Regions from separate parts of the Homo sapiens genome. Here region 1 is linked to region 2. A link means that fine-mapping ties the variant in region 2 to the expression of a gene that starts in the linked region. Tissue or cell type: whole blood. Region 2 holds a variant in brackets; the other region holds the start of a gene. All regions are shown on one strand. Distances are from middle to middle. Region 1 holds the start of ARHGAP21 (Rho GTPase activating protein 21). Region 2 has its middle 96 kb from the start of ARHGAP21.

Region 1 (2,901 bases), 96 kb before region 2:
CCCCCACGAGGCTGAAATGGGATCACACTTTCCAAGCCCCCTCTTCGCTCCCCTCCGCCCCCCAAAAACGCAAGCACAAAGCCAGCCTGGCTGGGGCCGGCGTGGGCTCGGCGGCGTCTCCGGGTGACTCGGGCGCCGCCCCTCCGCCCCTCCGCCCCGGCCGGCGTCCCCGAGGAGGCGGCTGTTTTCCTTGGCCCGCGGCGGGGCTGGGTGGGGACGGCCGGGGAGGCGTGCGCGGCCGCGGGTGGGACGCCGGCGCCGCTCCCGCTCCAGGGCATGATTCTGGAGCTACACCCGAGCAACTCTGAAGTCGCGGCTTTTCCCCCAACTACCACTCGACACGGCTTCCCTTCCCCTGTGGCCACCTAGGGGGAAAAAACGAGAAAAAGCAAACCACCACCCACCTCCCCACGATTCCCCCGCCCCTTCCTGAGGCGGGTCGGGGACCTCGAGCTCCCGAGGAGAGCGGCCCCAATATGGACTTTCTCAAAGGTGCTAGGAGCCCCGGGGCGAGACAAAACCGGGGGCCTTACCCTTCCCGCCCGCTCGGGCCCGGCGGCCGAAGCGCGGCGGCGAGCTGAAGCGGAGACGCTGGCCGGGCGCCGGGCCCGGCCGGGACGCGCTAGGCCGCAGGCTCGGTTAATATTCATGAGCGGCCCCAGGCGCCCCTCCTCCAAGGCTGGCCGGCCGGACCCCAGCGCCCACCGCCGGCCTTTGTGCCCTTCCCTCCGCCCCGCCGCCCGCCCTTGCTCCGCACACGCGGGCGCGGCCCCTCCGCCCCCGCCGGGCGCCCGCCGCGGGCTCCCTCCGGCCCCGAGCCAGCGCCCGGCCGGGTGGCCTGTGGCGGGAAGGGAGAGAGCCCGCGGCAAGCCGGGCACTCCACGGCCCGCGAGCGCAGCGCCCTCTCGGCTGAGACGGAAAAGAAACCAGACACGCACCAGAGGAAGCGGGACGAGTGGATCCGCACGGGGCTGGCCGGCTCCGGGACAGCGCGCCCCGCCCGCCCGCCCGGCGTGAGCCGGACCCCGCAGCCGGACGATCCCGCGCTGCCCGCCGCCGCCGCCGCCGCCGCCGCCGCGCTCCGAGGCCGCCGCCCCCGGCCGGCCGCTCCCAGGCACCGCCGCGACCTGCCCCGGCCGGCCCCGGGCTCTCGGCCGCCGCAGGAGGGCGTGGGGCGGGGCGGCGGCCGCCGGACTCTCCCCTCGCCTCGCCGGGCCGGGCCGGGGCCCAGCTCCGGCGCCCGCGAACGCCAAGTGACAGAAGCGCCTCGCTCCGTGGCCGCGCGGAGCTGTTTCCCGGGGGCGGATTTCTCGCTTCTTCCTCCCTGGATCCACCTCCTCCCACTCCACCTCCTTCCCCTCCCCTCCCCAGGGGAGGCTCTGGGGCTGAATATTTTCTGTCTTGAATAACACGGGACCGGGGAACCGACGCTGGAGAAGGGGGATTAGCCGGAGGCCGGAGCGGGGTGCTCGCCTGCCCCCTCCCCGTGGGTCGCGGGACCTACAAGCCCTCGCCCCCCAGCACCCCAAAACCAGGCACACAACGCTCCCCGCCCCTGCAGTCTCCCAAGCGCTGAACGGCAGCGTCCAGGGATGGGCTTGCTCCCGGGAAAGGAGACCTGGTGGTAGACGTCTGGGGTGGAGAGGGGGACAAGCCTATAACAGCGACATCTGCAGACTCCAGGGATCAAAGGTCCTAGATTGGGGGACAGGGCTTGGCAAATTGTGCCCCCACCCCTTTTTTGCAGCGGGAAGGCAATGAAGCTGCGACGAGACGTGGGACTTCCAGATAAGGGAGTGTCCCCTCACGCCTCACAGCAAAAATCTCTTCCTGTGGTGGGAAGGGGGAAGTTAGCCAAGCGTTGCTCATTCAGTTCTTTCCCTTTTATAAATTCTGCAGAGCGGCTGAGCGAATTTGGCGCGGCTAGCGGAACTGTGGAGAGGCGGCTGCGCTTCTCTGTCCGCCACACTCCAGGTCACAGCGGCTCCGGAGCCGCGGCACAACCGCCACCCTCCCCACCCAATTCCCGGGCCTTGTCACAGACCCCGGCAGCTCGCTCCGCCCCGCCGTGCCTCACAACATCTCCCGCTGCAAATTACCCAATCGGGAGACGCGACGAGAGAACGCGAACCAATCAGGGGCTGGTAAATCAGGCTTCCCTCCGCCCTCTTCCCCGCCCCCGGGTGAAGGCCACCGCCCCCTCGGCCTCTCCTTCCCACCCCGCCCCGCTCCGGGGAGGTGGCTCCCCGGCTCCGAGCCTCGCGGGGCTGGAGGGGGAGTTGCTCGCAGTCAGAGGCAGCGTTTGTCACCTTGTCACCCTCATCCTCGCCCCCTCCCATACACACTCCCCTCCCCTTCTCGGTGCTCCTGCTGGTGCTGTTGAGGGTCATTTTTATCCTCACTGCGGCCGGGGACTGCCAGCTATTGTGTCTGATCAGCTGCCACCGCTGTCCAGAGGGAAAAAAAGAAGAACAAAACCTAGAAACTGTGGAGTCCTCTTACCTTTTCCTTCTTTCTTTCTACACTCTCCCCTGTAGACTTAGAAACATCCCTTCTCCTTCCCCGCCCGCCCACCACCTGAGGTCCTGTTTCTTTATGGGGGACAGGGGAGCGGGGACAAAAAACACTCCCTGCAGCTGGAGTACCTGCGCCTTAGTTTTTACATCTTCCTTAAAGTGGAAGGTGCCAAACCAAATCTACAACTAAATCCTCCGCTTCAATTCGAGGGAAGACGTTGACGAGATCATTTTTATATGGCCATGAAATTTGCGTGTTCTTGACAGCCTGTCACCAAACAAGTCAGCTAATAATCAAGAAAAGAAAAATAGAATAAAATACAAGGACTGTATTTCAGTCAGATGGTAATTTACTAAATAGCCCAGTGGCTGTAGCAGTATCCAG
Region 2 (2,901 bases):
AACTGGAACTTCTGGCTGGGTGTTGTAGCTTGCACCCATAATCTTGTCCTCTTTGGGAGGCCAAGGTAGGAGGATCGCTTGAGCTCAGGAGGTTGAGACCAGCCTGGGCAACACAGTGAGACCTTGTCTCTACTAAAAAAAAATTAGCTGGGGATTGTGGCACATGCCTGTTGTCCCAGCTACTGGAGAGGCTGAAGTGGGAGAATTGCTTGAACCCTGGAGGTGGAGATTGCAGTAAGTCATGATTATGCCACTGCATTCCAGTGACAGAGTGAGACCCTGTCTCAGAAAAAAAATCCCCAAAAACAAAAAACAAAAACCCAAAAGCAAAAACTGAAACTTTTTTTTTCTTTTCTTTTCTTTAAAGTAGAGATGGGATTTTTGCCCCAGCTGGTCTCCAACTCCTGCTCAGGCAATCCTCCTACCTTGGCATCCCAAAGTGTGGGGATTACAGGTGTGAGCCACCGTGGCTGGCAATAAAACTGGAACTTCTTTTAAAAATTTTTATTGTAATCAGATCAGAAAATGGTTGCCAAAATAATCTGTACTTAAAAAAAATAAGTTCTGTTCAAATTAGAGCAGCTCCACAACTATTTTAACCATAGATTTGATAAAGGTAACTTTAAAAACTAAAATTTTGTACCCTGATTAAAAAAAAAAAACAAGGTTCTGACAAATATTACCTGGCCATAGAAACATGTAACTATTTCTTAAAGTATGCTGTGAAGTAGCAAGGACTGAGATGAAAGAGAAGGTATCCAGAGATGAATGATTAAAAAAAGTAAGCACTAAATATTTACATGTAACTATGTATTTATATATTTTATCTGTGTGTTGATTAATACTATTTGGTAAGAACTGCACATATAGTGTCTCATTTAATTCTCAAAACAACACTATGAGGTAGGTATTATCTCTGTTTAATGGAAGTTCAGAGAGGTTAAACCACTTGTCCATGGTTGAAAGTTAGTCAATTTCCAGGCTGGGCAACATGATGAGACCCCGTCTCTACCAAAAATAAAAAAAATTAGCTGGGCATAAGTGGCATGTGCCTGTGTCCCAAGCTACTCAGAGGCTGAGATGGGTGGATTGCTGGAGCCCTGGAGGCTGAGGTGGGTGGATTACTGGAACCCTGGAGGCTGAGTTTGCAGTGAGTCGAGATCACACCACTACACTCCAGTCTGATCATGTTGCTGCACTCCCCCATTAAGAAAGAAAGAAAGAAAGAAAGAAAGAAAGAAAGAAAGAAAGAAAGAAA[GAAAGAAGA/G]AAGAAAGAAAGAAAGAAGGAAAGAAAGAAAGAAGGAAAAGAAAGAAGAAAGAAATAAAGAAAGATGAAAGGGAGAGAGAGAGGGAGGGAAGGAACGAAGGAAGGAAAAGAAAGAGAGAAAAAGAGAAAGAAAATTGGAAATCTCAAACACAGACCTGACTATCTGCAAAGCCTATGCTCTTAACCTCCTCCTTCCAGTATTATACCAGGAGAGCTAGCAGCAGTGGGTTAGCTTAGTGCTTGCATTTTAAGTTTGAGTTCCAGAGAGGTAAAATGATGTGTTGATAACATAGACAGTAAGAGGTTGGATGAAACTGCAAGGTGATTTCTAGTAAATTTGCTCCCATTTGTTTCTAAGGAACATAAAGGAAATTTCTTTCTCTGTTAGCTTTTATAGTTTAGGAAGTAAATGTACATACAGTAGGAGTCATTCTGAGGTTGCTGGGGGTTAGAAGAAAATGCCTTTGTTTGAGACAGACAAGCTAGAGGGAGGTAGATGGGATATCACCTTGGAGCTGAAAGGGTGACCTGCCCCAATTAGTCACGACTGTCAAGCTTGGGCTTGAGCAGCAGTGGATCATGGAGACAGGGCACAAAGCCAGAAGCAGACTGGAAATGCCAAGGGCCTATGGCTGTGGTGTCAGCTCAGGTCCCGAAGTCAAGTGAGCAGGCAGGAGTGTCCATGGGCCAAGGCAAAATGGATGGAAACCAGCCAGCCAGTCAGGATGCCCTGAGGCACCAGCCCCTGCTCCCAGCAGGCCCAGGCTGGAGGCCTTGTATATTTCGGCTGCTCCAACAGTAGCCTGTCCTGGGGTCTGTATAGGGGAGCCCTAGACAAGAGCTGGGTAACAGGGGTGAGTGTTCAAGGTCAGGGTAGATTGCTTGTGAGCAAGCTCGTGCCAGCACCTCCATGGGTACTTTGGGAAATATCACACTTGAAAGATGGCTGGTTTGTTTATTGCCATAAATGATGCAAGAATCTGTGTAATTTTTAAAAACATGCCTCATTATATATCTAGTATCTAGTTGGTGATCAGGATCATCATTTTAGCTGGGTGCTTATAGTCCCAGCTACTCAAGAGGCTGAGGCGGGAGGATTGCTTGAGACCAGGGAGTTCGAGACTGTGATTGTGCTTGTGAATAGCTACTACACTCAAGCCTGGGCAACATAACAAGACCCATCTCTTAAAAAAATCATCATTCAATTTAAGTCTGGAGTCATGTTTGAGATACTTCTTGATTTTTAAAGGGCTAATATCTAGGATACTAAAGGGTCATACTAAATAGACATGCACTGTACTGTAAAGGGCCACTGCCTAGTATATCTTAAATAATAAATATTTGTCAAATGAATGAATGAAACTGAATTGACACAAACAGAAAGTCTAGGCCGGGTGAGATGCCTCATGATTATAATCCTAGCACTTTGGGAGGCCGAGGTGGGAGGATCACTTGCGGCCAGGAGTTTGAGACTAGCCTGGGCAACATAGTGAGACCCTGTCTCTACAAAAAATTAAAAAATTAGCCAGTGTGGTGGCTTGGGCCCAGCTACTCGAGAGGCTGAAGTGGGAAGATGGCTTGAGCCCATGAGTTCGAGGCTACAGTGAGCCATGATTGCGCCACTGCATTCCAACC

Evidence for each region.
Region 1: it holds the start of ARHGAP21, and the variant in region 2 is fine-mapped to the expression of ARHGAP21 in whole blood (INTERVAL, PIP above 0.99).

The regions. Positions count from the first base shown.
Region 1 is chr10:24,722,624-24,725,524 of GRCh38, forward strand. It overlaps ARHGAP21 (Rho GTPase activating protein 21), which reads right to left and starts at 1,264. Exons shown (of 26, transcript NM_020824.4): 1 at 939-1,264. RefSeq lists silencers at 44-353, 414-773, 794-873, 964-1,033, 1,064-1,253 and 1 more and an enhancer at 797-1,707.
Region 2 is chr10:24,818,920-24,821,820 of GRCh38, forward strand. No RefSeq gene overlaps it. Among named protein-coding and RNA genes, the nearest start is that of ARHGAP21, 96 kb to the left of the region's middle. The variant GAAAGAAGA/G (reference allele first, on the strand shown) is at 1,259.